Regions from separate parts of the Homo sapiens genome. Here regions 2, 3 and 4 are each reported to be linked to region 1. The links are microRNA targets in miRTarBase. Many come from high-throughput screens and were not tested one by one. Region 1 holds a microRNA gene; each other region holds the end of a gene's coding sequence.

What was found. The annotated mature microRNA hsa-miR-4722-3p reads ACCUGCCAGCACCUCCCUGCAG and lies in region 1 at 2,490-2,511, shown strand. An mRNA with a match to its seed (bases 2 to 7 or 8) in the 3' UTR can be bound and repressed. Matches are read on the target gene's strand: a 7mer-m8 pairs with bases 2 to 8, a 7mer-A1 pairs with bases 2 to 7 and ends in A, and an 8mer does both.
Region 2: the mRNA of SEC23IP is a reported target of hsa-miR-4722-3p. The part of its 3' UTR that is shown has no 7-base or 8-base seed match.
Region 3: miRTarBase lists ZNF91 as a target of hsa-miR-4722-3p. Seed matches in the 3' UTR shown: 7mer-A1 at 437-443.
Region 4: the mRNA of MRNIP is a reported target of hsa-miR-4722-3p. Seed matches in the 3' UTR shown: 7mer-m8 at 508-514.

What each region holds. Positions count from the first base shown.
Region 1 is chr16:88,711,671-88,718,788 of GRCh38, reverse strand. MIR4722 (microRNA 4722) reads left to right here and starts at 2,452; the gene lies at 2,452-2,511. It overlaps CTU2 (cytosolic thiouridylase subunit 2), which reads right to left. Exons shown (of 15, transcript NM_001012759.3): 5 at 7,094-7,118; 6 at 6,406-6,515; 7 at 5,884-6,167; 8 at 5,342-5,477; 9 at 5,011-5,142; 10 at 4,562-4,653; 11 at 4,303-4,406; 12 at 4,052-4,202; 13 at 3,863-3,929; 14 at 3,683-3,741; 15 at 3,393-3,607. The coding sequence ends at 3,538. It overlaps PIEZO1 (piezo type mechanosensitive ion channel component 1 (Er blood group)), which reads left to right. Exons shown (of 51, transcript NM_001142864.4): 45 at 1,578-1,766; 46 at 1,891-1,983; 47 at 2,058-2,230; 48 at 2,306-2,428; 49 at 2,512-2,591; 50 at 2,670-2,856; 51 at 2,935-3,451. The coding sequence ends at 3,184.
Region 2 is chr10:119,932,966-119,940,083 of GRCh38, reverse strand. SEC23IP (SEC23 interacting protein) reads right to left here. Exons shown (of 19, transcript NM_007190.4): 17 at 6,917-7,079; 18 at 6,297-6,398. The coding sequence ends at 6,317. Among named protein-coding and RNA genes, the nearest start is that of MIR4682, 22 kb to the left of the region's middle. RefSeq lists an enhancer at 5,848-6,017.
Region 3 is chr19:23,352,656-23,359,773 of GRCh38, reverse strand. It overlaps ZNF91 (zinc finger protein 91), which reads left to right. Exons shown (of 4, transcript NM_003430.4): 4 at 1-2,078. The coding sequence ends at 371. Among named protein-coding and RNA genes, the nearest start is that of ZNF91, 39 kb to the left of the region's middle.
Region 4 is chr5:179,830,772-179,837,889 of GRCh38, reverse strand. It overlaps MRNIP (MRN complex interacting protein), which reads left to right. Exons shown (of 7, transcript NM_016175.4): 7 at 5-614. The coding sequence ends at 499. SQSTM1 (sequestosome 1) reads right to left here. Exons shown (of 8, transcript NM_003900.5): 6 at 4,644-4,858; 7 at 4,108-4,303; 8 at 1-1,454. The coding sequence ends at 1,297. Among named protein-coding and RNA genes, the nearest start is that of SQSTM1, 13 kb to the right of the region's middle. RefSeq lists enhancers at 896-1,045, 827-1,121.

The DNA of each region.
Region 1 (7,118 bases):
CTGCATTAAGCCTGATCACACCACTGCACTCCAGCTTGGGCAACAGAGTGAGACCCTGTCTCTAAAAAAGTAAAAAGAAGAAACCCAGTGCCCATTGGCTGTCACTCGGTTTCCCCTCCCCTGGCCCCTAGTAACCCCTTGTCTAGGTCCTGGTTCTATGAGATTTGCCTACAGTGGATATTTCATGAAAACAGGCTCAGACAGCGTTTGTCCTTTTGTAATCAGCTTTCCTTGCTCAGCATGGTGTCTCTGAGGTCCACCCACGTGGCAGTATGGCCTTCCTGTTTATGGGCAAATGATATTCTGTGGCATGGATGGACCACAACATGCTCATCTGTTGATGGGCTGTTGCCCGTGATGCTGCCAGGCACGCCGGTGTACACGTCTGTGTGCCCGTGCCCCTGGTCCTGTGGCTGCACGCCAGGGCCGGAAGTGCTGGTGGTGGTTTCCATCATGAGGAGCTGCTGGTTTTCCATAGCAGCTCCACCATCTAAGGTTCCCACCACCAACACGAGGTTGCGGTTTCTCCACATCCTCAACAACCTGTTACTATGTCTTTTTTGTTCTGGCCATGCTGCTGAACGGGTGGCTTGCTGTGGGCTCTTCTCAGTTCCCTGTTGACCGACGCTGAGCGTCTTTTCATGTGCTTGGCCATTTGTGTATCTTCTCTGGGGAAATGTCTATTCAAATCCTTTCTCCATAGTTTAGTTGGGCTTTTGAGATAGGATCTCAGGCTGAAGTGCAGTGGCATGACCTTCACTCACTGTAGCCTCTGCCTCCCAGGTTCAAGCGATTCTCCCACCTCAGCCTCCCGAGTAGCTGGGACTACAGGTGTGCACCACCAGGCCTGGCTAGTCTTTTGTATTTTTGGCCAGGTTCGTCTCAAACTCCTGACCTCAAAGTGCTGGGATGACAAGTGTGAGCCGCCACACCCAGCAGTTGGGTTGTTTTTTATTAGAGTTTTTTCTGTTTTTCTGCAGATACATTGGCTAGAAATGACTGAATTGGAAGAATTCTCTGTATTCTCTGGTTGCTAGAACCTTATCAATTAAAATTTGCAGAAAATTTCTCCAATTCTATGGACTGTCTCTTAAATTTTCTTGGTGTCTTTGGAAGCACAAAGTATTTATTTTGGTAATATCTGGTTTACTTTGTTTCCTTCGCCAAATCCAGGTTCATGAAGATTTGCCCGTTTTCTTCTAAAAGTTCTATAGTTTTAGCTCTGAAGTTTCGCTCTTTGATCCACTTTGAGGTAAATTTTGGCACATGGTATGAGGCAGGAGTTGCGTTTCATTCTCCTGCCTGGGGCGGTGCCTGCACCGTGTTGAAAAAGGTTGTCCGTTCCCACTGAACGGTCACAGCTCCCTTGTCTAAGATCAACGACCCCTGAACATGAGGGTTCCAACTGGACTCTTAGTTCTACTCCACTGGCCTGTGTCTGCCCACCATTACTACCGCTGTGCCATACTGAGGTCAGGCTGGGGCTTTTCTGGGCTGCTGGGTGAGCTGGAGAATGCGGTTGTGTGACCCGCAGGAAGGGCAGAGCTGAGCGTATGACCTGTGTCGTTCCCCTCCAGAAATACCCGCAGCCCAAAGGGCAGAAGAAGAAGAAGATCGTCAAGTACGGCATGGGTGGCCTCATCATCCTCTTCCTCATCGCCATCATCTGGTTCCCACTGCTCTTCATGTCGCTGGTGCGCTCCGTGGTTGGGGTTGTCAACCAGCCCATCGATGTCACCGTCACCCTGAAGCTGGGCGGCTATGAGGTGAGCATGTGTGGGTCCGCCTGTCCATTCCCATCCCCTGGGGGTTCTGGCCAAGGTGGTGCACCACCCCCAGCCGCTCCTCCACGCTCATCTTCGTGGCCCCGTGTCCCCGTGCCTGCCCCAGCCGCTGTTCACCATGAGCGCCCAGCAGCCGTCCATCATCCCCTTCACGGCCCAGGCCTATGAGGAGCTGTCCCGGCAGTTTGACCCCCAGCCGGTAAGTGGCCTCTGCCCTGTGAAAGCTGGTGTGGGGAGGCGGCTGCAGTCACTGAGGGTGTCACTTGTACCCAGCTGGCCATGCAGTTCATCAGCCAGTACAGCCCTGAGGACATCGTCACGGCGCAGATTGAGGGCAGCTCCGGGGCGCTGTGGCGCATCAGTCCCCCCAGCCGTGCCCAGATGAAGCGGGAGCTCTACAACGGCACGGCCGACATCACCCTGCGCTTCACCTGGAACTTCCAGAGGTTCGTCCTGGACTTGGGGCAGTGCCTGGGTGGGTGGACCCACTACAGTGGGTCACGCTGTGTTCCCACCCCCAGGGACCTGGCGAAGGGAGGCACTGTGGAGTATGCCAACGAGAAGCACATGCTGGCCCTGGCCCCCAACAGCACTGCACGGCGGCAGCTGGCCAGCCTGCTCGAGGGCACCTCGGACCAGTCTGTGTGAGTGAAGGGCCCGGGTGGTGGGCAGGAGGGCTGTGCCAGGTTGGCTGGGCCAGGCCTGACCTGCCAGCACCTCCCTGCAGGGTCATCCCTAATCTCTTCCCCAAGTACATCCGTGCCCCCAACGGGCCCGAAGCCAACCCTGTGAAGCAGCTGCAGCCCAGTGAGTATGGGCGTGGGGGTTGGGGGAGGCTAGAGAGGGGTGACCTGCGGCCTCAACGATCTTCTCCCTCCATCCCAGATGAGGAGGCCGACTACCTCGGCGTGCGTATCCAGCTGCGGAGGGAGCAGGGTGCGGGGGCCACCGGCTTCCTCGAATGGTGGGTCATCGAGCTGCAGGAGTGCCGGACCGACTGCAACCTGCTGCCCATGGTCATTTTCAGTGACAAGGTCAGCCCACCGAGCCTCGGCTTCCTGGCTGGCTACGGGTGAGTGAGTGGCTGGGGGGGCACCCCGCAGCTCGGGGGGCTCCGGGCGGCCCCAGGACTCACCAGCTTCCCCCGCAGCATCATGGGGCTGTACGTGTCCATCGTGCTGGTCATCGGCAAGTTCGTGCGCGGATTCTTCAGCGAGATCTCGCACTCCATTATGTTCGAGGAGCTGCCGTGCGTGGACCGCATCCTCAAGCTCTGCCAGGACATCTTCCTGGTGCGGGAGACTCGGGAGCTGGAGCTGGAGGAGGAGTTGTACGCCAAGCTCATCTTCCTCTACCGCTCACCGGAGACCATGATCAAGTGGACTCGTGAGAAGGAGTAGGAGCTGCTGCTGGCGCCCGAGAGGGAAGGAGCCGGCCTGCTGGGCAGCGTGGCCACAAGGGGCGGCACTCCTCAGGCCGGGGGAGCCACTGCCCCGTCCAAGGCCGCCAGCTGTGATGCATCCTCCCGGCCTGCCTGAGCCCTGATGCTGCTGTCAGAGAAGGACACTGCGTCCCCACGGCCTGCGTGGCGCTGCCGTCCCCCACGTGTACTGTAGAGTTTTTTTTTTAATTAAAAAATGTTTTATTTATACAAATGGACAATCAGAGGCCAGTCCCCCGTCCTTGCCTTCCGGCTCCAGTGTGGTGTACCAGGTGGCCACTGCCTGCTGTCCCGGCAAGCACGTCCTCACGCTCAGCTCTGGCCCGCCTCGTCGTCACTGTCCTCAATCAGACAGTCCCGGATCTCCTGCAAGCCCCAGGCCCTAGAGAGAAAGCTGCAGTGGGCACCAGCCCCGAGGCCCCTTACCCACGCGCCACGGCAGTGTGGGCCCCAGTACCTCTGTGTGCGGAGCTGGGCCTCAGCCAGGATGTACGGCGGCAGGGGGTCCAGTGAGGGCTGCAACAGAGGCCGGTGTCGAGGGGCCAAGAAACCTGCCAGCACCCCCTCAAGCCACCCACGAGGTGACGGCCTTCCCGCGTCCCCAAGCCCGGCCCAGGACAGGTGGGCACGTACTCACCAAGTCCTTCATGTTCACGCGGCAGCTGTAGCACAGCTGCTCCTCAATGCAGGCTTGGGGGTCCTCCCTGCGGGAGCAGAGCTGGCTGTGTGCCCACCTTGGCACCTCAATGCCGTGCAGTGTGGGGTAAGGACAGGTCCCCCTCCCGCCCCATGCAGCTGGCCATGGGTGGCAGGGACAGGGACTCACCTCCTGCAGGCCCCCTGGCCACAGCGCTGGGCCCAGCCCACCCCTGGAGAACAGCAGGGCCCCGGGGGTGTCCGGGTCTCAGTCAGGGGGATGGGTGACTGCATCTGGGAGAGACGCGAGGAGGTCTGAGCCCCAAAAGCCGTGGCACTGTCTGCAAGCAGAGAGGGGGTGACGGAGCCTGGGGCTGCTGAGCCCCCACACCCACTCCCTGGCTCCCTCCCCGCATCACCCCAAGAGCATGAAACACAGACCAGCGGCGTCGACGTCCAGGGCACACATGCAGAGGAGGCAGCGGGGGCCGGAGTCGCCAGCAGCAGGGCCATCCCGGGGGCCCTTCACCAGCTTCTCACTTGTCCTGTGGCCGGATTGTGGGAGGAGCAGGTGAATCACACGGGCTGGGGCTCCACCCTAAGCCCTGGCCTGAGCACGAGTGGTGAGCTCACCACCCGCACACACCCGCGCACAGCACACACCCGCGCACCCCCCGCACACACCCACACACACCCACACCTGTACACAGTGCTGACAGTGGAGGGGAACTGGGTCTGCAGCCTGAGGATGAAGGCCTCCATCAGCCGGTGGATGCTGGCCTTTTCAGGGGCCTAGGGACAATCAGATTGGAGGCTATGGGAAAGCCCAGAGGCCAGCCCCAGGCTGGGGCAGAGTCCCCAGGACAGGTGCCGTGGGTTCCACGCTGCTGGCCCACATGGGTCTGGCTTTGCTGCGACTGCTCAAGGCAGCCAGAGAACCCGCTTCAGCAGTGCACCCACTGTGGGGTCCTCCTGTCACCCCCACACCCTCACGGCACAGGGTGGGCTCAGAGGATGCAGCACTGCTGGGGGCCACAGCAGGAGTCACTGAAGGTGTGCTGGTGACCTGAGCCTGTGAGAGGCTGCCCAGCCCACATGGCCCACCCCGGTGTCAATGGTGAGAGAGGTTGCCCAGCCCACAAGGCCCACCTTGGTGTCGACGGCTGGTGTGAAGACAGAAGGAACGGAGAACAGGCGGTTGTAGAAAGCGACCTCCTTCAGGGTGTGGTCCCGCATGGGCCGCACCACCACCACGTCCCCGTGCCGCTCATCCGAGAAGCCCTGCGGGAGGCAGGGGCTGTGTGGTCCAGGTCAAGGCCCGAATGTGCTTGCCCCTCCTCCCCTGCCAGGTAGGGGAGGTCACAGACCCCACCACCATCCGAGGCCGCAGGACTGATACGCGAGAGGCTACTCTCCAGTAAAGGTGGCCGAAGGGGTGAAGGTGAGGATGGGCCTCCTGAACACCCAGGCCCCTGCCTACCGTATCCCAGGCCAGGAAGGCCCCTCGACCCAGCGCCAGGTTGGTCATGAGCTTGATAGCCAAGCGTGTGCAGCTGTCCCCAGTCATGACCTTGGAGTAGCCGTGGGCTCGGGCCATGTGGAGGATCAGGTGGGTCCTAAAGCACAGAGCGTCTCAGGGGCCTGGGGGGTGCAGGACCCGGGGAAGGGGGGCTCTCGGGTATGAGTGGGGGTCAGGGCCCGGGGAAGGGGGGCTCTCAGGGGTATGAGTGGGGGTCAGGGCCCGGGGAAGGGGGGCTCTCAGGTATGAGTGGGGGTCAGGGCCCGGGGAAGGGGGGCTCTCAGGGGCATGAGTGGGGGTCAGGGCCCGGGGAAGGGGGCTCTCGGGCATGAGTGGGGGTCAGGGCCCGGGGAAGGGGGGCTCTCAGGGGCATGAGTGGGGGTCAGGGCCCGGGGAAGGGGGGCTCTCAGGGGCATGAGTGGGGGTCAGGGCCCGGGGAAGGGGGCTCTCAGGGGCATGAGTGGGGGTCAGGGCCCGGGGAAGGGGGGCTCTCGGGGCCTCACCGCAGGGTCTGCAGAAGCTCCTCCTTGGCAGTCAGTGTCCTCACTGAGCAGAACAGTTGGGAAAGAGCCTCAGTCTGGGCAGGGGCAGGCGGTCTTGCCAGGTTCTGGGGGTCCAGCGGGGGCTGGGGTGGCTGTTCCTCCCCTTGAGTCGGGCCAGGACCACCCCCGGCCCCCAGCACATGCTGCTGCTGGAGGAAGCTGTCCACGGCCGCCTTGTAGGCCCCCTCGGATCCCACCAGCTCCTGGGCAGAGCACCAAAGCACCGACGGTGGCAGGCTGAACACCTTCCGGGATGAGGGAGACGCCAGTGAGGCCCGGGACACGGGCAGGTGCCCCCCACAGACAGCCCCACCTTCCGGGATGCGGGAGACGGCAGTGAGGCTGGGGCACGGGCAGGTGCCTCCCACCCCCCACCGACAGCCCCGCCTTCTGGGATGAGGGAGAGGCCAGTGAGGCTGGGACACGGGCAGGTGCCCCCCAGGGGTCACCTCCGGGACCCCTTTCCAGGGACAGCCCTCCCACCTCCTCTAAGGCCACCACATGCCATGGGAACCCAGTTGCTTGCAGAATGGGCTTCACTTCGGCCAGGGTCTTTGATCTCTCCTCTAGGCTCTGGCCACAGGCTGCTCCCTCTGAAAAACCCAGGCAGAAAGAGTCAGGGCTCAGAGAGGAGCCAGGCAGGGCAGGCTGCAGGGCCACCTCCACCTGGGAAAACCCTTCGAGGCCTCGCTCCGCAGGGCGGTGCTTCCTGGCGGAGCTGTGGGGTGTCGGCCATTTTCCTTTGGGCAGGGGTTTCTCTCTTGCGGCTGACCTCAGCGCTACAGTCAACACCCCAGGAGTTCGTTCTGCAGGAGCAAGGGTCGGGGAGTCGGCCCCTGGGCCCCCGCTCACCATCAGCACTTAACTTGCCCTTCTTTGTCCCCAGACCCCGTGATGGGGGCTGGGCAGCCGCCACTCCTGCTCCCACCCCCGACTTTCTAAGGATGTTCTTAGATTCCAGGAACAGTGATGCCACCTAACGATGGATACATCTGCTGCCTCCTTCAGGGAGATGTCCCCACCAGGCCCTCAGTGCAGGGGCAGCACCAGTAGCTCAACACATCCTACCAGAGGGAGGACCGGCACCAGAGGGAGGGTCCACACCAGAGGGAGGATCCGCAGGGCTTACCCCAAGTGGCCAGGGACTAGGAGGAGCAATGGCCCCACATACCGTCAACAAAGATGACTCCTGCCAC
Region 2 (7,118 bases), not on the chromosome of region 1:
AGGAAACACTCAGTAAGATTAACCAGCATGATTTCTTCATAGCAAAGCCAGTACAGAGAGTAAAAGACACAATTTAAAGTTAGTTATGGCCAAGTGTTGTGGCTCACGCCTGTAATCCCAGCACTGTGGGAGGCCGAGGCAAGTGGATCATCTCAGCTCAGAAGTTCGAGACCAGCCTGGGCAACTTGGGGGAACCCTGTCTCTACCAAAAAATAAAAAAATTAGCCAGACGTGGTGGTGCACACCTGTGGTCCCAGCCTCTCGAGATGCTAAGTTAGGAGGATCGCTTGAGCCTGGGAGTCAGAGGTTGCAGTGAGCCAAGATTGCGCCACTGCACTCACACAAGCTGGGTGACAGAGTGAGACCCCTTCTCAAAAAATTAAAATATTTTATTTTATTTTTTTTCTTTGAGACAGAGTCTCGCCCTGTCGCCCAGGCAGGAGTGCAATGGCACGATCTCAGCTCACTGCACCCTCAGTCTCCCAGGTTCAAAAGATTCTCCTGCCTCAGCCTCCCAAGTAGCTGGGACTACAGGTGTGTGCTACCACGCCCGGCTAATTTTTGTATTTTTAGTAGAGACAAGATTTCACTATTTGGCCAGGCTGGTCTCGAACTCCTGACCTTGTGATCCGCCTTGGCCTCCCAAAGTGCTGGGATTACAGGCATGAGCCACCGTGACCAGCTAAAATATTAATAAAAAATAAAGTTAGTTATCTGCCATGTTAATTTGAGGCTTTTTTATTTTTTATTTAATTATTTATTTTTGAGACAGGGTCTCACTCTATAATCCAGGCTGGAGTGCAGTGGTACGATCACAGCTCACTGCAGCCTCAATCTCCCGAACTCCAGCAATCCTCCCACCTCAGCCTCCCAAGTTGCTGGGACTACAGGTGCACACCATCATGCCCCAGTGATTTTTTTTTTTTTACTTTTAGTAGAGACAAGTAATGTCTTGTCTATGTTGCTAAGCTGGTCTCGAACTCCTGAGCTCAAGCGATCTGCCTGCCTCAGCCTCCAAAGTGCTAAGATTACAGGTGTAAGCCACCACACCTGGCCAATTTGAGGCTTTTCAAAGAACAATCCTAAAAAGGTCTAAAAGGACATGAACATAAAACAACCATTCAGCAAAACTGATCTAAGCTTGAATGAACTATGTATAGAATAATTGTTAACATTTTAAATGGATTATCTTATGACATTAGTATAGTATTAGAAACTTAAATTCTTGCCTAAATTTTACAGCCAAGTGTAAGAAGAAGTAAATAAAACAATTATAGTGAACGAATCATATGTGAAATAGAAGGTTCTGAGTTTTCCATATAAGGTGATGGCAAAATCCTAGAATTACTATTCTTTTGGTTTTGTTTGTCTTGCTTTGTTTTGTTAGGGGAGAGAGCGTCAGGGGAACTTAAATTATTTCGAACTTCATTCGGGATAACTGCAAAGACTATGGTATACTGAGAACTTCTACTGCCAGATATTATGTAAAAAATTACAATTATTAAAACACCATATTTCACCAAATCTAAGACACTGTTGATTGTGACACTTCACTGTTATGTACCATAAAAAGATGCCCAGAAAGGGAGTCTCAAAGGAGAACCCCTCACAAAAAGTGGGGGACTAAACATCTATAGTCTCAATGAGGGATAAAAGCAAGCAACTACATGCAGAAGGGATGGCAAAGAGGCCTGCGCACCTCTTCCTTGACAATGGAAAGAGGGAACAAAAACTCCAATATCTGAACTGACAACCCCATCCCTGCAAATTTTGGGGGCTGAAATCACACTACCAGCATCATCCTAAAAAATCCCAAGCAGAGAAATTAGCTTAAGCAGAGGCAAGTTGGTAAAGCCCCTCCCCCAGTGACCAGCAGAAGAGAATGCACAGCTTCTCAGAAAGAACTCAACTTCCGTTAAGGCAACAGCTGACTTAAATTTTTTTTTTTTTTTTTTTTAAGAGACGAGGTTTCACTATGTTGCCCAGGCTGGTCTCAAACTCCTGGGCTCAAGTAATCCTCCCACAGCGCTGGGATTACAGGTATGAGCCACTGCACCAGCCCCAACAGCAGATTTTAAGATGCATTACAAATTTAAATATGTTAAAATGTGGAAAATAAATGGCTTGAAATCAATGAAGTATCATAGACAAATAAATCACCAGAAGAGATGAGAAAGCCTAGGAAACAAATATTAATTAAAATGTCAAACAACAGCAAAATATTTGGCATATGATAAAAATATCAAACCAATGACAAAAGGGTACATTATTCAATATATGGCACAGACAGAAACGATTATGTAAGAAAAAAGTTAAATTGTTCTCTACACCTTACTCTTCTAAATTACAAAGCCAAATGGGGAAAAAAAGAACTAAAAAGAAAATAAATGTAAATATCTAAAAAATAATTAATCATAAAAGACTGGGCTATGTTTTTTGTTTTTTTGTTTTTTTTTTTTAGACGGAGTCTCGCTCTGTCATCCAGGTGGGAGTGCAGTGGCACAATCTAGGGTCACTGCAACCTCCGCCTCCTGGGTTCAAGCAATTCTCCTGCCTCAGCATCCCAAGTAGCTGGGATTATAGGTGCCAGCCACCACACCCATCTAATTTCTGTATTTTTAATAGAGATGGGGTTTCTCCATGTTGGCCAGGCTGGTCTCAACCTCCTGACCTCAGGTGATCCGTCCACCTCGGCCTGCCAAAGTGCTGGGATTACAGGCGTGAGCCATCATGCCCAGCGTAGGGCTACGTATTTTTAAAACATGCTCCCCTCAAACTGCCGCCAAAAAAATCCAAAGTATAAGGAAAAATAAAAGGCTAATTTCAAACTGGGAAAAAATACTTATAATGACAAAGGTTAATATCCTTAAGTATCATATTTATAAATCCATAAGAAAGAAAAGGACCCTGGCCGGGCACGGTGGCTCACGCCTGTAATCCCAGCACTTTGGGAGGCCAAGGCGGGCGGATCACGAGGTCAGGAGATCGAGACCACAGTGAAACCCCGTCTCTACTAAAAATACAAAAAATTAGCTGGGCACAGCAGCGGGCGCCTGTAGTCCCAGCTACTCGGGAGGCTAAGGCAAGAGAATGGCATGAACCCGGGAGGAGGAGCTTGCAGTGAGCCGAGATCACGCCACTGCACTACAGCCTGGGCGACAAAGCAAGACTCCGTCTTAAAAAAAATAAAATAAAATAAAATAAAATAAAGAAAGAAAAGGACCCTACCCCGTACCTCCAAGAAAACACAAAGGTCATGAACAGGCAACTGACAAAAGAAATATAATCAGCCAGTTAAGATACACCCAAAGAGCTCAACTTCACTAATAATAGAAATGTAAGTAAAAACGGTATTATAACTATTTCTGGCTATCAAATTAGCAAAAAAAAATTTTTTAATCAGTAATACCCAGTGTTTCCAAGAGTGCAAGCATACTGGCCTTTACATACTGATGGTAAATATGAAAATTGAGCAACTTTTCTGGAATGCAATTTAGCAAAATGTAGGGATCAAAAAGCTTTTTTTTTTTTTTTTTTTTTGAGACGGAATCGCATGCTGTTGCCCAGGCTGGAGTGCAGTGGTGGAATCTCAGCTCACTGCAACCTCCACCTCCCAGGTTTTAAGAGATCCTCCTGCCTCGGCCTCCCAAGTAGGTGAGATCACACCCTGCTAATTTTTCTGTATTTTTAGTAGAGACGGGGTTTCACTATGTTGGCCAGGCTGGTCTCGAACTCCTGACCTCAAGTGATCTGCCCGCCTCGGCCTCTCAAACTGGGATTACAGGCATGAGCCACCGCACCCAGCCAAAAATCTTTTCAAAATATGCAATATTCTCAGAAATAAGAACACTGCTTCTAAGAATGTATCCAAAGCAAACAGAGATTGGCAAAAAGTGTGTAAAACTACATATCAGAGTTATTTATAATGGAGAAAATTTGGAAAATCATCTAACACCCAACAATGGGGTAAAATAAAGTATTTTAATAAAAGAACTATAAAATGGAATGAAATGCAACTATTAAAATATCACGTATCACTGTAGTACTGTTCATACTAATAAAAGATTAGAATAACTTCAATGCCCATCAGTAGGGACTGCTTAAACAGATTATGGTGCAATAGTCAATGGAATACCTAAAAAGAACGAGGTCACTCTCATGTTCTGATCCAGATTCTTCTCTCCACCTGAAGTGGTCTTCTTCCTCCAGATATCCACCTGGCTCGCTTGCTCAAATGACACTTTACTTTACCCGTGAAGGGGGTCCCTTGCCATCTTATATACATTAATAACTTGAACCCATCCCAAATGAATTCCTCTCCTCCTTGTCCAGCTGCTCAGTCTTTACCATGTGGTTCATTTCAACTGTCCACGTGCTGTCTGCCTTCCATTAGAGGAAAAAAGGTCCTTGAGGGCAGAGGCTTTGGTCCACTGCTGTGAAACCCAATACCTAAAATAATACCTGGCACTTAAGTAAGGTGCTCAACAGATACTGGACGGATGGATGAATGGACGGATGGGCGGACAGATGGATGAATGGATGGATAGATAGATATGGGACAATCTCAAAGACACAAAGGTAATAACGGTGTGTCAATTTTGCTATCATTTGTCTTTTTTTTTTTAGATAGAGTCTCACTCTGTCATCCAGGCCGGAGTGCAGTGGCGCAATCTCAGCTCACTGCAACCTCCAACTCCTGGGTTCAAGAGATTCTCCTGCCTCAGCCTCCTGAGTTGCTGGGATTACAGGCACCTACTACCATGCCCGGCTAATTTTTGTATTTTTAGTAGAGACAGGGTTTCACCATGTTAGCCAGGCTAGTCTTGAACTCCTAACCTCAAGTAATCCACCTGCCTCGGCCTCCCAAAGTGCTGGGATTACAGGCGTGAGCCACTACACCCAGCCTCTTTTGTCTTTTAAAAAAGAAAAACTTAAAAGTGTGTGTGATGTGTTAACAGATATCTGGAAGGATACACAAAACGTGGAACACTGGCTGCCTCTAGGCAGGGAGGTTGGGGATGAGTTATGGGAAAGCCATCTTTCACTTCTGGCCTTGCATTTCCCAACTACAGGCACCCGCCACCACACCCGACTAATTTTTGTATTTTTAGTACAGACGGGGTTTCACTATGTTGGCCAGGCTGGTCTCGAACTCCTAACCTCAGGTGATCTGCCCGCCTTGGCCTCCCAAAGTGATGAGATTAGAGGTGTGAGACACCATGCCTGGCCTACACTTTAGTTTTCTTTTACTTTGTTACAAGTTTAATTTTGGAAATGGAGCCAAAAAACTTTCTCTAAGGAAGCCCTACTAAAAGTACTTACCTCTCTAAAACGAGGAGGTAGAAGATGAGGCTGAAGGGAATGTTCATTTACCACTTACTATTAGAAAACCAAAAATGGCAGGAACTTCCTTTGATTTCAGTAATTTAGAGCTCAGCATTTTGTGTCTGATTCTTTCAAAGCCTTTAAAATTTCTAACTTTGTAAAAAACACATTACTTGTTTTTAAAAGTAATGCATAATCTAGTGAGGAAAACCAGGTATCTGGTGTCTCAGGAGGACAGTTAGGAATACAGAGTGTGGCTGAGCTGCACGTCAGCTGACCCATCACAGACTTAACCTCCTTCTCTATTCTTTCCCTCTATAAAGATTGGGAATGCTCAAAACATTACTTCTACAATCTTTCATACAGACTGGAGATATTGGACATTAGACACAGGCCTAGTCAATAGGTATGAGTAAATTTTTGGACAAGCTTCTGCTTCCCTAATTAAGAGCGACAGATGTGAGGAGTACTACCCTCTCCCCTCTTATTCATGTTGTGAATGTAGATATGGTATCTGCAACCATGGGGGCACCTTATAACTATGAGGCAGCAAGAGCCAACATTCAGGTGGGAAGAGGCAAGCACTCTGGGTATCTGGTGGAGTCACTCAACAGAAGAACCCTTCTTGTTACGGAAGAAAAATAAACCTCTATTTGTTTAATGTATTGTAAACTGGGTTCTGTGAACCTGCAACCAAAGGAATTCCTAACTGATATTCTTGGGAATCTATTTTAAAAAGAAACTAAAAATAACTCAAATTCTATGTAAATTTAGAAAGAAGACTGTAATAAATCAGAAATGTAAATTACAAACCAATTATCTTCCTTAATGTCTCTATTGCAAATTTTTAAAAACGACGACAAAAACTCAGAGGAAACAGAAAAAAGCAAAATCAGTCAACATCAACTCCATACAACAGATTTGAGAATGCAAACATTCAGAATTTATACATTCAATAAGGATAAACTCACACAGTAAAACTGAAGTTTGATCAATGCTGGGGCTGTTCTGGACTAATGTTCATTGTTCGATAAATTTCTTTAAGTAGTAACAGAGCAGTATCTTCAGATTCCCTATGAAAAGGAAAAGCATATTTACTTAAGAGACAATTAGAAGAAATTAACTTCTATGCACAATGGTTGAAAATGCAGGTTCTATTCTATTCAACTCTATCTAAGAAGGGCAAATGATAGCAATGTAATCTCAGTGTAATAAATAAAGCAGCGTAATCTCAGAGCTGTCCTTAAAAACTAGATGAATACTGATTAGCTCCAAAATAGCTGTGTTGCAATTCTCCTTGGTGACAGGGATACAGGAAAGAATGGCATTTCAAAGTCCCTACCACTCCCACTGTGAAAGGCATTCCCACAAAAACAGTGTGCAAGAACCAAGGGTCTTTGGTCAAAAGCAGATGACATACTGCCATCTTGTGGGTAACTAAGGGGGAAAAATAACGATTCTGAACATATAGTAATTCAAATGAATATTCATAGTACATTGTATCAGTAAAAGAATCTCACTAAAACTAAAATTGCTGCACGTGCTAGCACCAAAAGCCCACTCAAATGTTACCAAATTTAAGAACACTTACCAATAGCATAAGTGACTCTGAAGAGCGAAAAGGTATTCATTAAAACTCTCTATTGGTTTTTCTTGGAGAACGTAGTCAATTCGGCGGCCTCCATTTAACATTCCAACCTTTCCTAAGTAGTCCTCATCCTTGGAAAAATCTGGACTTTCAACAACCTTTTCTGCTAGAATTTAAACCATTTCAATATCAAAGTCAATCACTT
Region 3 (7,118 bases), not on the chromosome of region 1:
AGAGAATTCATACTAGAGAGAAACCCTACAAATGTGAAGAATGTGGCAAAGCATTTAGCCAATCTTCAACCCTAACTAGACATAAGAGGTTGCACACCGGAGAGAAACCCTACAAATGTGGAGAATGTGGCAAAGCCTTTAAAGAGTCCTCAGCTCTTACTAAACATAAGATAATTCACACTGGAGAGAAACCCTACAAATGTGAAAAATGTGGCAAAGCCTTTAACCAGTCTTCAATCCTTACTAACCATAAGAAAATTCATACTATCACACCTGTAATCCCACTACTTTGGGAGGCCGAGGCGGGCGGATCACGAGGTCAGGAGATGGAGACCATCCTGGCTAACACAGTGAAACCCCTTCTCTACTAAAAAATACAAAAAATTAGCCGGGCGTGGTGGCGGGCGCCTGTAGTCCCAGCTATGCGAGAGGCTGAGGCAGGAGAATGGCGTGAACCCGGGAGGCGGAGCTTGCAGTGAGCCGAGATCACGCCACTGCACTCAAGCCTGGGCGACAGAGCGAGACTCCGTCTCAAAAAAAAAAAAAAGAAAATTCATACTAGAGAGAAACCCTACAAATATAAAGAATGTGGCAAATCTTTTAACCGGTCTTCAACCTTTACTAAACATAAGGTAATTCATACTGGAGTAAAACTCTACAAATGTGAAGAATGTGGCAAATCCTTTTTCTGGTCCTCAGCCCTAACCAGACATAAGAAAATTCATACTGGACAGCAACCCTACAAACAGGAAAAATTTGGCAAAGCCTTTAACCAGTTTTCACACCTTACTACAGATAAGATAACTCATATTGGAGAGAAATCTTACAAGTGTGAATAATGTGGTAAAGTCTATAAAAAGTCCTGAATTCTTAACAGACATAATATTATTCATACTGGAGAGAAACTCTACAAACCTGAAAGATGTGCCAACGCTTTTGACAAGTCAAACTTTTCTAAACATCAAGAAAATCATGCTGCTGAGAAATCCTAGAAATGTGAAGAATGTGACAAAGCCTCTAAATGATTGTCACACTTGATCGTAGGTAAGATAATTCATACTGGAGAAAACTACCAGTGTGAACAATGTGGCCAAGCTTTGAACTAATGCTCACACCTTAATGCATAGGAAAGCATTTATGCTTGAGAAAAAGTGAACAAATATAGACAAAAAGCCATTAATACCTGCTCACATCGTACTCAAATTCAGAGCGTTCATACTAAATAAGAAGTGTAATTACTGTCAAACGACTGATCAGAAAATATGTCTTTAAAGTACAGAAGAGTATTTTGAAAAAGCATTACAAATATGAAGAGGCATTATTTATGACCTTTTCTATGGAAAGGTAAGGACATTAAAAATGTAAGATGCATGATGAAAATTTAAGTAGAGAGGATCTTTATGGTTAACTTATAATATCGAGTGATGCATGAGGTAGATGTTCAGATTAATATTCTGCATTATTATGAAAGAAAAACATTCTTAATTTTAGTTAAAGTTTAGTATGATTTATTGTATTTTTATGAAATATATGTAGCATATTTTTAAATTATAAATTGCATGTGAACTTTTCAACCAAACAGTTTTAACATGTTAAATACTATCATGAATTCAATGAAGTGTTATTATGCCAGTAACTTTAACCTATTCCACCTTACTCAAGGGTGTAGGTAAAAGATGGTAAAAATACACTATTTGGTAAGATAATGGACTGACATCTCTAGTGATTTTTTTTGCCAGTGAGTTTTAATTGCCATTAAGTTAAAGAATATTGTTCCCATAGGCTAAATTTTTATTTTTATTTTCTCATTTAAATGTATTTGACTTAATTTTTGTGGATACCTAATATGTGTACATATTATGCCATATGTGGCATATTTTGATACGGACACACAATATATAACAATCGCATTAGACTAAATGCGGTCTCCATTACCTCTAGCATTTATTCTTTGTATTACAAATAATTCAATTCTACAGTTTTAGTTATTTTTAAATGTACAATTAAATTGTTGTTGACTACAGGATTATTTTTATGGTCATAATAAAACTTATATACAAACATAAGTAAAATCCATATATTTCTGAGTCCCGAATAAATCTTTTTTAATTTTTTCATATATTTTTCTTCGAACATGTGGCCTCTGCCTGCAAGCACATATGGACTGTTAGTATTGATTTACATAGAGTTAAATATACACATCTGTTAGTCTAAGATGAATCTTAGGTGTAAATAAATTATGGAGTGTGTTTAAGTTCGAAACTATTTTTAGCAGAAAAAAGCAATATTGGAACAAAATCATTTTAAGGAGGTGTCTAATTTACTACAAAACAAAAATTCTCAAAAATGCTGAAAGCAAATTTATACTCTGCTTTGTATTGAATTTCTTGCTGTACAATCTTTTGGCTTATGGTTCAGAGTCTCCCCATGCAAATTCTGTTTTAACTTGACTGGTACTCATGCTAGACCCATAATTTTTTGTTGTTGTTGTTTAATAGGTTTTTTGTTTGCTTAATTGTTTGTTGTTGTTGTTGTTTGTTTGTTTTTGAGACAGAGTCTTAATCTTTCTCCCGGGCTGGAGTGCAATGGTGCAATCTGGGCTCACTGCAACCTCCGCCTTTCAGGTTCAAGCAGTTCTCCTGCCTCAGCCTCCTGAGTAGCTGAGATTACAGGCATGCATCACCACGCCCGGCTCATTTTTGTATTTTTAGTAGAGACGGGGTTTCACCGTTTTGGTCAGGCTGGTCTCAAATTCCTGACCTCGTGATCCACCCGTCTCTGCCTCCCAAAGTGCTGGATTACAGGCGTGAGCCGCCTCGCCTGGACTAATTTTTGTATTTTTAGTAGAGACAGGGTTTCACCATGTTGGTCAAACTGGTCTCCAACTCTTGACCTCAGGTGATCCACTCACCTCGGCCTCCCAAAGTGCTGGGATTACAGGCATGAGGTACCAGGCCCGGCTGGCCTGTGTAATAGTTTATGAAGAATTCATTATGTGAGCCTGTCTGTAATTATAAAAATACTTTTTTAAAATTTTATTGTTCCATAAGTTACTTATGTACAGGTGGTATTTGGTTAGTTGAGTAAGTTCTTTAGTGGTGATTTGTGAGATCCTGGTGCATCCATCACCCAAGCAGTATACACTGCACCATATATGCTGTATTTTATCCCTTCCCCTTTCACTCTTCCCCGCAAGTACCCAAAGTCCATTGTATTATTCTTATGTCTTTGCATCCTCATAGCATACCTCCCACATATCAGTGAGAACATACGATATTTGGTTTACCATTCTTAGAATAATAGTCTCCAATCTCATCCAGGACATTGCAAATGCTGTTAATTCATTCCTTTTTGTTACTGAGTAGTATTCCAACATATATATATGTATGTGTGTGTGCATGTGTGTGTATATATACATTTTAAGTGTTTATATATTTATATATATATACACACACATATATATATTTCACAGATTCTTTACCCACGCGTTAATTCCTGGGCATTTCAGTTGGTTCCACGATTTTACAATTGTGAATTGTGCTGCTAGAAACATGCATCTGCAAGTACGTTTTTCAAATAATCATTTCTTTTTCTCTGGGTAGATACTCAGTAGTGGGATTGCTGGATCAAATGCTAGTTCTACTTTTAGTTCTTTACAGACTCTCCACACTGTTTTCCATATGCATTTATATGTTTTCCATGGTGGCTCTATCAGTTTACATTCTCACCAGCAGTATAGATGTGTTCCCTGATTGCCACATCCATGCCAACATCTAGTTGTTTGATCTTTTGATTATGGCTATTCTTGCAGGAATAAGGTGGTATCGCATTGTGGGTTTGATTTGCATTTCTTTGATCATTAGTGATGGTAACCATTTTTTATATGTTTGTTGGCCATTTGTATATCTTCTTTTGAGAATTTTCTATTCATGTCCTTAGCCCACTTTTTGATGCGATTGTTTTTTTCCTTACTGATTTGCTTGAGTTTGTTGTAGATTCTGGATATTAATCTTTTGTCGGAGGTATAGATTGAGTTTGTTGTAGATTCTGGATACTAATCCATTGTCAGATGTATAGATTGTGAAGATTTTCTCCCACTGTGTGAGTTGTCTGTTTACTCTGCTGACTGTTCCTTTTGCCATGCAAAAACTCTTTAGTTTAACTAGGTCCCAGCTATTTATCTTTGTTTTTATTGCATTTGCTTTTGGGTTTTTGGTCATGAAATTTTTGCCTAGCCAATGCCTAGAAGGGTTTTTTTCCAATTTTATCTTCCAGAATTTTTATAGTTTCTGATCTTAGGTTTAAGTCCTTAATCCATCTTGAGTTGGTTTCTTTTATAAGGTGAGAGATGAGGATCCAGTTTCATTCTACATGTGGCTAGCCAATTATCCCAGAACCATTTGTTGAAAGGGTATACTTCCCCACTTTATGTTTTTGTTTGCTTTTTTGAAGATTGCTTGGCTGTAATTATTTGGGTTTATTTCTGGGTTCTCTGTTCCATTGGTCTATGTGCCTATTTTTATACCAGCACCATGCTGTTTTGGTGACCATGGCCTTACAGTATAGTTTGAAATCAGGTAGTATGGTGCCTCCAGATTTGTTCTTTTTGCTTAGTCTTGCTTTGGCTGTGCAGGCTCTTTTTTGGTTCTATATGAATTTTAGAATTGTTTTTTCTAACTCTGTGAAGAATGACGGTGGTTTTTTGATGGGGATTGTGTTGAATTTATAGATTGCTTTTGGCAGTATGGTCATTTTCACAAATTATTCTACCCATGCTTGTGCATGGGATGTGTTTCCATGTCTTTGTGTTGTCTATGATTTGTTTCAGCAGTGTTTTGTAGTTTTCCTTGTACAGGTCTTTCGACTCCTTCGTTAGGTATATTCATATAATTTTTTTCCCGCTATTGTAAAAGAGGTTGAGTTCTTGATTTAATTCTCCATTTGGTTGCTGTTGGTTATTAGAAGAGCTACTGAGTTGTGTACATTAATCTCGTATCCTGAAACTTTGCTGAATTGTTTTATCAGTTCTAGGAGCTTTCTGGAGGAGTCCTGAGGGTTTTCAAGGTAAATGATCACATCATCAGCAAGCGGACAGTATGACTTCCTGTTTACTGATTTGGATGCCCTTCATTTCTTTCTCTTGTCTGATTGCTCTGGCTAGGACTTCCAGGGCTATGTTGAAGAGGAGTAGTGAGAGTGGGCATCCTTGTCTTGTTCCCGTTCTCAAAGGAAATGCTTTCAACTTTTTTCTATTCAGTATTATGTTGGCTGTGGGCTTGTCATAGATAGCTTTTATTTATTACATTAAGCTGTGTCCCTTGTATGCCAACTTTGCTGAGAGGTTTAATCATAAAGGGATGCTAAATATTGTCAATTTTTTTTTCTGCATCTATTCAGATGATCATGTGATTTTTGTTTTCAATTCTATTTATGTGGTGTATCACATTTCTTGACTTGTGTGTGTTAAACCATCCCTGCATACCTGGTATGAAATCAGCTTGATCATGGTGGATTATCTTTTCGACATGTTGTTGGATATTCTTTTCGACATGTTTTTGGATATTGTTAGCTAGTATTTTGTTAAGGATATTAGCATCAATGTTTATCAAGGATATTGGTCTGTAGTTTTCTTCTTTGGTCGTGTCTTTTCCTGGTTTTGGTATTAGGGTGATGCTGACCTCATAGAATGAATTAGGGAGGGTTCCTCCTTTCTCTGTCTTGTGGAATAGTGTCAAAAGAATTGGTAGTAATTCTTTGAATATCTGGTAGAATTCTGCTGTGAATCCATCTGGTCCTGGACTTTTTTTGTTGGTAATTTTTAAATTACCATTTTAATCTCACTGCTTGTTTTTGGTCTGTTCAGGGTATCTAATGCCTCCTGATTTAAGCTAGGAGGGTTGTATCTTTCCAGGAATTTATTCATCTCTTCTAGGTTTTCTAGTTTATGTGTGTAAAGGTGTTCATAGTAGTCTTGAATGATTCTTTGTATTTCAGTGGTGTCAGTTATTATATCTCCTGTTTCATTTCTCAGTGAGGTTATTTGGATTTTCTCTCTTCTTGGTTAATCTTGCTAATGGTCTATCAGTTTTATTTATCTTTTCAAATAAGCACTTTTTGTTTCATTTACTTTTGTATTTTTTTGTTTGAATTTTATTTAGTTCTGCTCTGATCTTGGTTATTTCCTTTTTTTCTGTTGGGTTTCGGTTTGGTTTGTTCTTGTTTCTCTAGTTCCTTGAGTTGTGACCTTAGATTTTCCGTTTTTGCTTTCAGACCTTTTGATGTAGGCATTTAGGGCTGTGAAGTTTCCTCTTCATCACCTTAGCTGTATCCCAGAGGTTTTGATAGGTTGTGTCATTATTGTCACTCAGTTTGAAGAATTTTTTTATTTCTATATTGATTTTGTTTTTGCCCCAGTGCTCATTCAGGAGCAGATTATTTAATTTCCATGAATTTGCATGGTTTTGAACGTTCCTTTGGGAGTTGATTTCCAGTTTTATTCCACTGTGGTCTGAGAGAGTGCTTGATATAATTTCAATTTTCTTAAATTTATTGAGGCTTATTTTATGGCCTATCATATGATCTATCTTGGAGAAAGTTCCATGCACTGTTGAGTAGAATGTGTGTTCTGCGGTTGTTGGATGAAATGTTTTCTAATATCTGTTAAGTCCATTTGTTCCAGGGTATAGTTTAAATCCATTGTTTCTTTGTTGTCTTTCTGTCTTGATGACCTGTCTAGTGCTGTCAGTGGAGTATTGAAGTTTGCCACTATTACAGTGTTGCTGTCTATCTTGTTTCTTAGGTCTATTAGTAACTGTTTTATAAATTTGGGAGCTCCAGTGTTAGGTGCATATATGTTTAGGATTGTGATGTTTTTCTGTTGGACCAGGCCATTTACCATTACATAATGTCCCTTTTTGTCTCTTTTAATCACTGTTGCTTTAAAGTTGGTTTTGTCTGGTATAAGAATAGCTACCCCTGCTTGCTTTGGGTGTCCATTTGCATGAAATGCCTTTTTCCACCCCTTTAAGTTTATTTGGGTCCTTATGTATTAGCTGAGTCTCCTGAAGACAGCAGATAGTTGATTGGTGAGTTCTTATTCATTCTGCAGTTCTGTGTCC
Region 4 (7,118 bases), not on the chromosome of region 1:
TCAGGGACAGGCTGGCCTGACATGGAAGGTGAAACAAGGCAGCAGCCCCTGCCTCCAGGAGAACTCTGCAGACTGCAGTGCCGGGGAGCTGAGGGGTCCTGGGAAGGAGCTATGGAGTCCCATCCAGCAGGTTACAGCCACATCCTCTAAATGGGCGCAATTTGTCCTGCCACCTAGAAAAAGTTCACATGTGGACAGTGAGCAGCCAAGGTCTCTTCAGAGGGACCCCAGGCCAGCTGGTCCAGCACAGGCTAAGCAAGGGACCCCCAGAGCACAGGCCTCAAGAGAAGGCCTCAGCAGGCCCACTGCCGCTGTCCAGCTTCCTCGGGCCACACACCCCGTCACATCTGGGTCTGAGAGGCCTTGCGGGAAGACCTCATGGGACGCAAGGACTCCCTGGGCAGAGGGTGGGCCCCTGGTCCTGGAGGCACAGAATCCTCGACCCACACGACTATGTGACCTCTTTATAACTGGGGAAGACTTCGATGATGATGTGTGATCTGGGACTGGCAGGTTATTAATCGAGATACACTTGTTAGGAGGGACAGGGTTCCCCTAAGGCACTTTTAAAGATACTCTGTAAGAACCATTAACAATAAACTTACTGTCAATCATTTCTCTCTATGCAAACGTCATTGGTTAAAGTGCTGATGCCATTTAATTAGATTGTTTACAAATTTAACAGGATGGCTACAAAGAGATCTTATTTTAAAAGCAGCTGATGGTTTGGAAATGAGAGAACTACAGTGGTGAAGAGACCAGGAGGCAGCTCTCAGTGAAACCAACATTGCGGATGCCCTTCGTGAGCCTTCTCAGTCCCAGCAGGAAGCCCACAACACTGGCCTCCCCAGCCTGCCTGCTGACAACACCTAGGCTTACTTTATCTAAAATCAGAGTGTACCAGGTCTGTAGCAGAAAATAATCAACTAAATGTCAGGGACCTATGAGTCATTTAAAACAAAAGAGAAAGTGAAAGCCATTAGGCAAGCTATGTGCTGGGCTGCTAACGTAGCCCCTGCAGGGAGGGGTCAGGAGCGCGCTGCAGTGAGCCTTGGGTCTCGCAGGCCCAGCCCTGCTGCAAGGAGCCAGGGCACCCAGGAAACATCAGCACACACACACACAGGGACCCTCCCTTCATGTCACTTGTTTTGCTGCCCTAAATGGCTTCTTGCACCCTAACCCCTGATCCTGGAAGAAGGCAGAGAAACTGGCCCGTACAGAGACCTGCAATTCTACGCAAGCTTAACACAACTATGAGACAGAAGAGGGGCACGCAGAAGAGGTGGGCAAAAGTGGTCACAACGGCGGGGGATGCTTTGAATACTGGATGGTGTCCAGAGCCGCTCCGATGTCATAGTTCTTGGTCTGCAGGAGCCTGGTGAGCCAGCCGCCTTCATCAGAGAAGCCCATGGACAGCATCTGGGAGAGGGACTCAATCAGCCGCGGGTCAGCCTCTGCCGAAACAGTAAGGAAGCCATGAGGAGTGGTGCTGAGCCCTGTGAGTGACCCGAAACACATACCCTGCTGCCTTGGCCAGCCAGGACCAGGGTCTGCCAGTGTCCGAGCCTGCCCAGAGCTCTCGTCCTCACAGGCCACAGTGGACCTGCTTTCCCTGTAAAGGGCCAAGCAGTCTTTTTCACACTGCTCAACTCTGCCACTGCGACACCAGGCAGCCAGGTGGTGTGTAAGCAGAACCATCAATGGACACTGAAATAGGCATTTCACCTGTCACATCTTTTGATTTTAAAATGTAAGAACAGGCCAGTTAGCCAATTATTACACTCCTCCATGCAAGAGATGATGGGGCATTGAAATAGATTGAAGATGGAGAGAGATGAATGGATACAAGATACATTTTGGAGGTAGAATGAACAGGACTTGGAAATGTATGTGGAGAAGGCAAAGGAGTTAAAGATGATATCTGGAGCAGCACAACTCACAATTGCAAAGATGTGGAACCAACCTAACTGCCCATCAAGCAATGAGTGGATAAAGAAAATGTGGTATATATACACCATGGAATACTACTCAGCCACAAAAAGGAACGAAATAATACCTTTTGCAGCAACTTGGACGGAGCTGGAGGCCATTATCCTAAGTAAAGTAATTCAGGAATGGATACCAAATATCATATGTTCTCACTTATGAGTAGATGCTAAGCTATGATGATGCAAAGACATAAGAATGATATAGCTTTCCCTCTCCCTCTTTCTCCACGGTCTCCCTCTGATGCCGAGCCAAAGCTGGACTGTACTGCTGCCATCTCGGCTCACTGCAACCTCCCTGCCTGATTCTCTTGCCTCAGCCTGCCGAGTGCCTGCGATTGCAGGTGCGCGCCGCCACGACTGACTGGTTTTCGTGTTTTTTTGGTGGAGACGGGGTTTCGCTGTGTTGGCCGGGCTGGTCTCCAGCTCCTAACCACGAGTGATCCGCCAGCCTCGGCCTCCCGAGGTGCCGGGATTGCAGACGGAGTCTGGTTCACTCAGTGCTCAATGGTGCCCAGGCTGGAGTGCAGTGGCGTGATCTCGGCTCGCTACAACCTCCACCTCCCAGCTGCCTGCCTTAGCCTCCCAAAGTGCCGAGATTGCAGCCTCTGCCCGGCCGCCACCCCGTCTGGGAAGTGAGGAGCGTCTCTGCCTGGCCGCCCATCGTCTGGAATGTGAGGAGCCCCTCTGCCTGGCTGCCCAGTCTGGAAAGTGAGGAGCGTCTCTGCCCGGCCACCCATCGTCTGAGATGTGGGGAGCGCCTCTGCCCCGCCGCCCTGTCTGGGATGTGAGGAGCGCCTCTGCCTGGCCGCGACCCCATCCGGGAGGTGAGGAGCGTCTCTGCCCGGCCGCCCCGTCTGAGAAGTGAGGAGACCCTCCGCCCGGCAGCCACCCCGTCCGGGATGTGAGGGGCGCCTCTGCCCGGCCGCCCCTACTGGGAAGTGAGGAGCCCCTCTGCCCGGCCACCACCCCGTCTGGGAGGTGTACCCAACAGCTCATTGAGAACGGGCCATGATGACAATGGCGGCTTTGTGGAATAGAAAGCGGGGAAAGGTGGGGAAAAGATTGAGAAATCGGATGGTTGCCGTGTCTGTGTGGAAAGAAGTAGACATGGGAGACTTTTCATTTTGTTCTGTACTAAGAAAAATTCTTATCCTGTTGATCTGTGACCTTACCCCCAACCCCGTGCTCTCTGAAACATGTGCTGTGTCCACTCAGGGTTAAATGGATTAAGGGCGGTGCAAGATGTGCTTTGTTAAACAGATGCTTGAAGGCAGCATGCTCCTTAAGAGTCATCACCACTCCCTAATCTCAAGTACCCAGGGACACAAACGCTGCGGAAGGCCGCAGGGTCCTCTGCCTAGGAAAACCAGAGACCTTTGTTCACTTGTTTATCTGCTGACCTTCCCTCCACTATTGTCCTATGACCCTGCCAAATCCCCCTCTGCGAGAAACACCCAAGAATGATCAATAAAAATAAATAAATAAATAAACAAAAATAAGAACTACTCTTGGCCCATAGGCCATAGCTCGCCATCCCCTGCCCTAAGGCAGAGAAGACACACAGCGGCGGCCCACAGCAGGTTGTGCACACGGACCTTGGTTTACACACGGCTGCCATGTGACAATGAGGAGTTTCTGTCAGCTGTCCCCACCCCCCACCCCCCCACTGCTGCCTGCCACACCATCCACTTCAACGGTGGCTTCTGCCTGGCTCCTACAGGGATCTTGGCTATGACCCCCCCCCCTCTCAGACCAGCACTCCCTGAGGCGGCACTTGAGTGTGAGTAGTAGGGACACACCCAGTGCTGCCCCCTCTCTGTGTCACACCTGCCTTAATTCCTGGTCTGCATGTTAAGTTTTAGAAACTCCTACAATTAATATTCCTGGCTCTGGAGTTTGCCTAAAGAAAAACATTTTCAGAACTGCATTAGCAGAGCTTACTCGCTATTGCTCAGGGTACACATAATAGGACAAAACCAACTCCTAACCTCCCACACCTACAGACAGCCCTGCAGTGGAGAACATCTCATCCTTCTGTTTGTGTCGCTGAAATCAGAGGAGGGCAGGATGCTCTAAAGGGAAAGGTAGGAATATGTACAAAACCTCTTGGTTCACTTGCCTGGCGGGAGATGTGGGTACAAGGCAGCTTCCTTCAGCCCTGTGGGTCCCTCCTGGGAGGGGTCCAGAGAGCTTGGCCCTTCGGATTCTGGCATCTGTAGGGACTGGAGTTCACCTGTAGACGGGTCCACTTCTTTTGAAGACAGATGGGTCCAGTCATCATCTCCTCCTGAACAGTTATCCGACTCCATCTGTTCCTGGAACAAAACTCACCATGAGCACACAGGAGACACGCGCAACAGGCCAAGCCTGACCATGGCCCTGGCTCCTGGCAGACAGTCGGGGAGCACGCATGCACACGTGCAGTTAAGGCTGCAGGGGTCTAGGGGGAACAGTGGCCACTCACAAAGACCAAGTAACTACAAAGTTCTAGCAGGTTCCCAGCGTGACTTTAATGGCACAGACATCACTGCAGCAGCAGCAGCTCCCTCGGGTTTGTAAGTGGGGCTGCAGAGGTGCTGAGGATGAGGCGGAGGTGCAGGCCACAGATCACTAGGCTGGCCGTGGTCCCAGGTGGCGGGAGGGGCACAGGCTTGCCTCAGGGCGCCCCTCGGACTCCAAGGCGATCTTCCTCATCTGCTCCGCCAGAGACTGCGTGGCGCCCTCAACATTCCCACCCGGCTTGCTGGGGTCAGAGCAGCAGCTGCTTGGCTGTGAGCTGCTCTTCTCCTCTGTGCTGGAACTCTCTGGAGAGACGGGGGTCAGGCGGCTTCTTTTCCCTCCGTGCTCCACATCGATATCAACTTCAATGCCTAGAGGCGGAGGAGGAAAGAGCAAGCCGTGAAGTTCCCCCAAGGATGCACCTGCAAGCAGGAGCTTGGCCTGTGGAGACTACAGACTCACGAAGATCTCAACGTTCAGTCCCCACAAGCAGCTAAGTGTCTGGATGGTGGCACTCAGCGTGTGGATGCAGGTGCTAGGTTCTACCCAGCTCGACCCCGCAATCACACAGCCAGTATGGGACCAGACGATACAAACCCATGAGTCAGAGGCTTCTCCCCATATCCCAGCTACAAATCTCTGTGGCTTCTGGAAACATTCTTGGTGGGCCCATGATACTGGACCTTTCTCTTTCTCCAATTCAGTAAAACATTAACCTCAGCTAGCATCTAAAGTCAGCTTCTGAGCCAGAAAGTCGAAAGAGACCTTTTTCCTAACCATGCAGGACACGGGCCACACGGCAGGTGGGGCCAGGCCCTAAGTACAGGGAGAGCCAATACCACATGTGGCAGGCGCTTCCAGCCACAGTGATGGAAGGCCATGTGCCTCCTGACACCTGCACACAGAGGCTTTGTGCGACGACACACACGCACACCTCAACGCCGGAGCTCTGCTCTGGGAGGTGGATGGGCCGTGCAGGCGCTGCGTAGGGCCCAACGCTGGCCCCACAGGGAACCTGCACACCTCCAGGCTCACGTGACTCACCAGGGACAGAGGGGAGAATCACCTGCACTATTTTTGAAATTAAATGTGTCAAAAGTCTCCACACCCACAGCTTAGAGTCACCAGTTGCCAAAGGCTGTGGTGCACACTCCCTGCCCCCATCCCACTCCCCAAACTCTCCCTGTGCCCTTTCAGCTCACGCTGCTCTTGCCTGCTGCTGGAGTTCACATCTGCGCACTTCCTACTCTGGACCAGTACCTGCCTCTCCTTCCACTACCCTTTCCAAGACGCAATTTTTTGTTAAAAGAACATTCAGTAGGCCGAGCGCAGTGGCTCACGCCTGTAATCCCAGCACTTTGGGAGGCCGAGGCGGGCGGATCACGAGATCAGGAGATCGAGACTACCCTGGCTAATATGGTGAAACCCCGTCTCTACTAAAAATACAAAAAATCAGCTGGGCGTGGTGGCAATCGCCTGTAGTCTCAGTTACTCGGGAGGCCGAGGCAGAAGAATCGCTTGAACCTGGGAGGCGGAGGTTGCAGTGAGCCAAGTTGGCGCCACTGCACTCCAGCCTGGTGACAGAGCAAGACTCCATCTCAAAAAAAAAAAAGAACATTCAATGTTTCAGCTAGGACCTCTATCTAAATGTTCTTTGCTGGGTCAAGTAGCAGACTATTTCTTTGTATCGCTTTTTGTTTTCCTACCACTGATAATGGCTTCTCTTTTCCTTTGTTTTGTAGACAGAGTCTCGCTCTGTTGCCCAGGCTGGAGCGCAGTGCCGCAATCTCTCGGCTCACTGCAGCCTCTGCCCACCAGGTTCAAGTGATTCTCCTGCCTCAGCCTCCCGAGTAGCTGGGACTATAGGCACGTGCCACCACGCCCAGCTAATTTTTATATTTTTAGTAGAGACGGGGTTTCACCATGTTGGCCAGGCTGGTCTTGAACTCCTGACCTCAGGTGATCTGCCTGCCTTGGCCTCCCAAAGTGCTTGGATTACAGGCATGAGCCACTGCACCCAGCCTGCCTTCTCTTTGCATTTGCTAACTTTCCCTATGTTCTCCCACAGCATCTCCATAGTTTTCTACAAGGGTGAAGTGGATCAGAGACCCCACTGGTTCTGGTGTTTTCCATAGAGAGTGCCGCTTGCTGTGCAGCCTCCTGTTCCAGCCAGGACTGGCAGCTCTCTGGGCAGAGGCTGCGCTGTGATGCTGTGACCCCCTTTACGTTCACCCTCTGTCCTGTTAGGTCCCCCGTTTCCTAATACCTCTGTGCTTCATTTTGGGTTTCTCTCTTCATGTGGTTCAAACCAAGGTTAAAATAATTAAGACTGTATACCAGAAAGTAACTTTGTTCTGCCCTGATACTTGATCGTTTTAGCTGGGTATAGAATTCTAGGCTGGACCAGGCACAGTGACTCATGCATGTAATCCTAACACTTTGGGAGAACAACATGAGAAATCTCTTGAGCCCAGGAGTTCAAAATCGGCCTGGGCAGCATGGCAAGACCCCATCTCTACAAAAAAATTTTAAAATAGCTGGGCACGGGGCTGGGCACAGTGGCTCATGCCTGTAATCCCAGCACTTTGGGAGACGAAGGCAGGTAGATCATGAGGTCAGGAGTTCAAGACC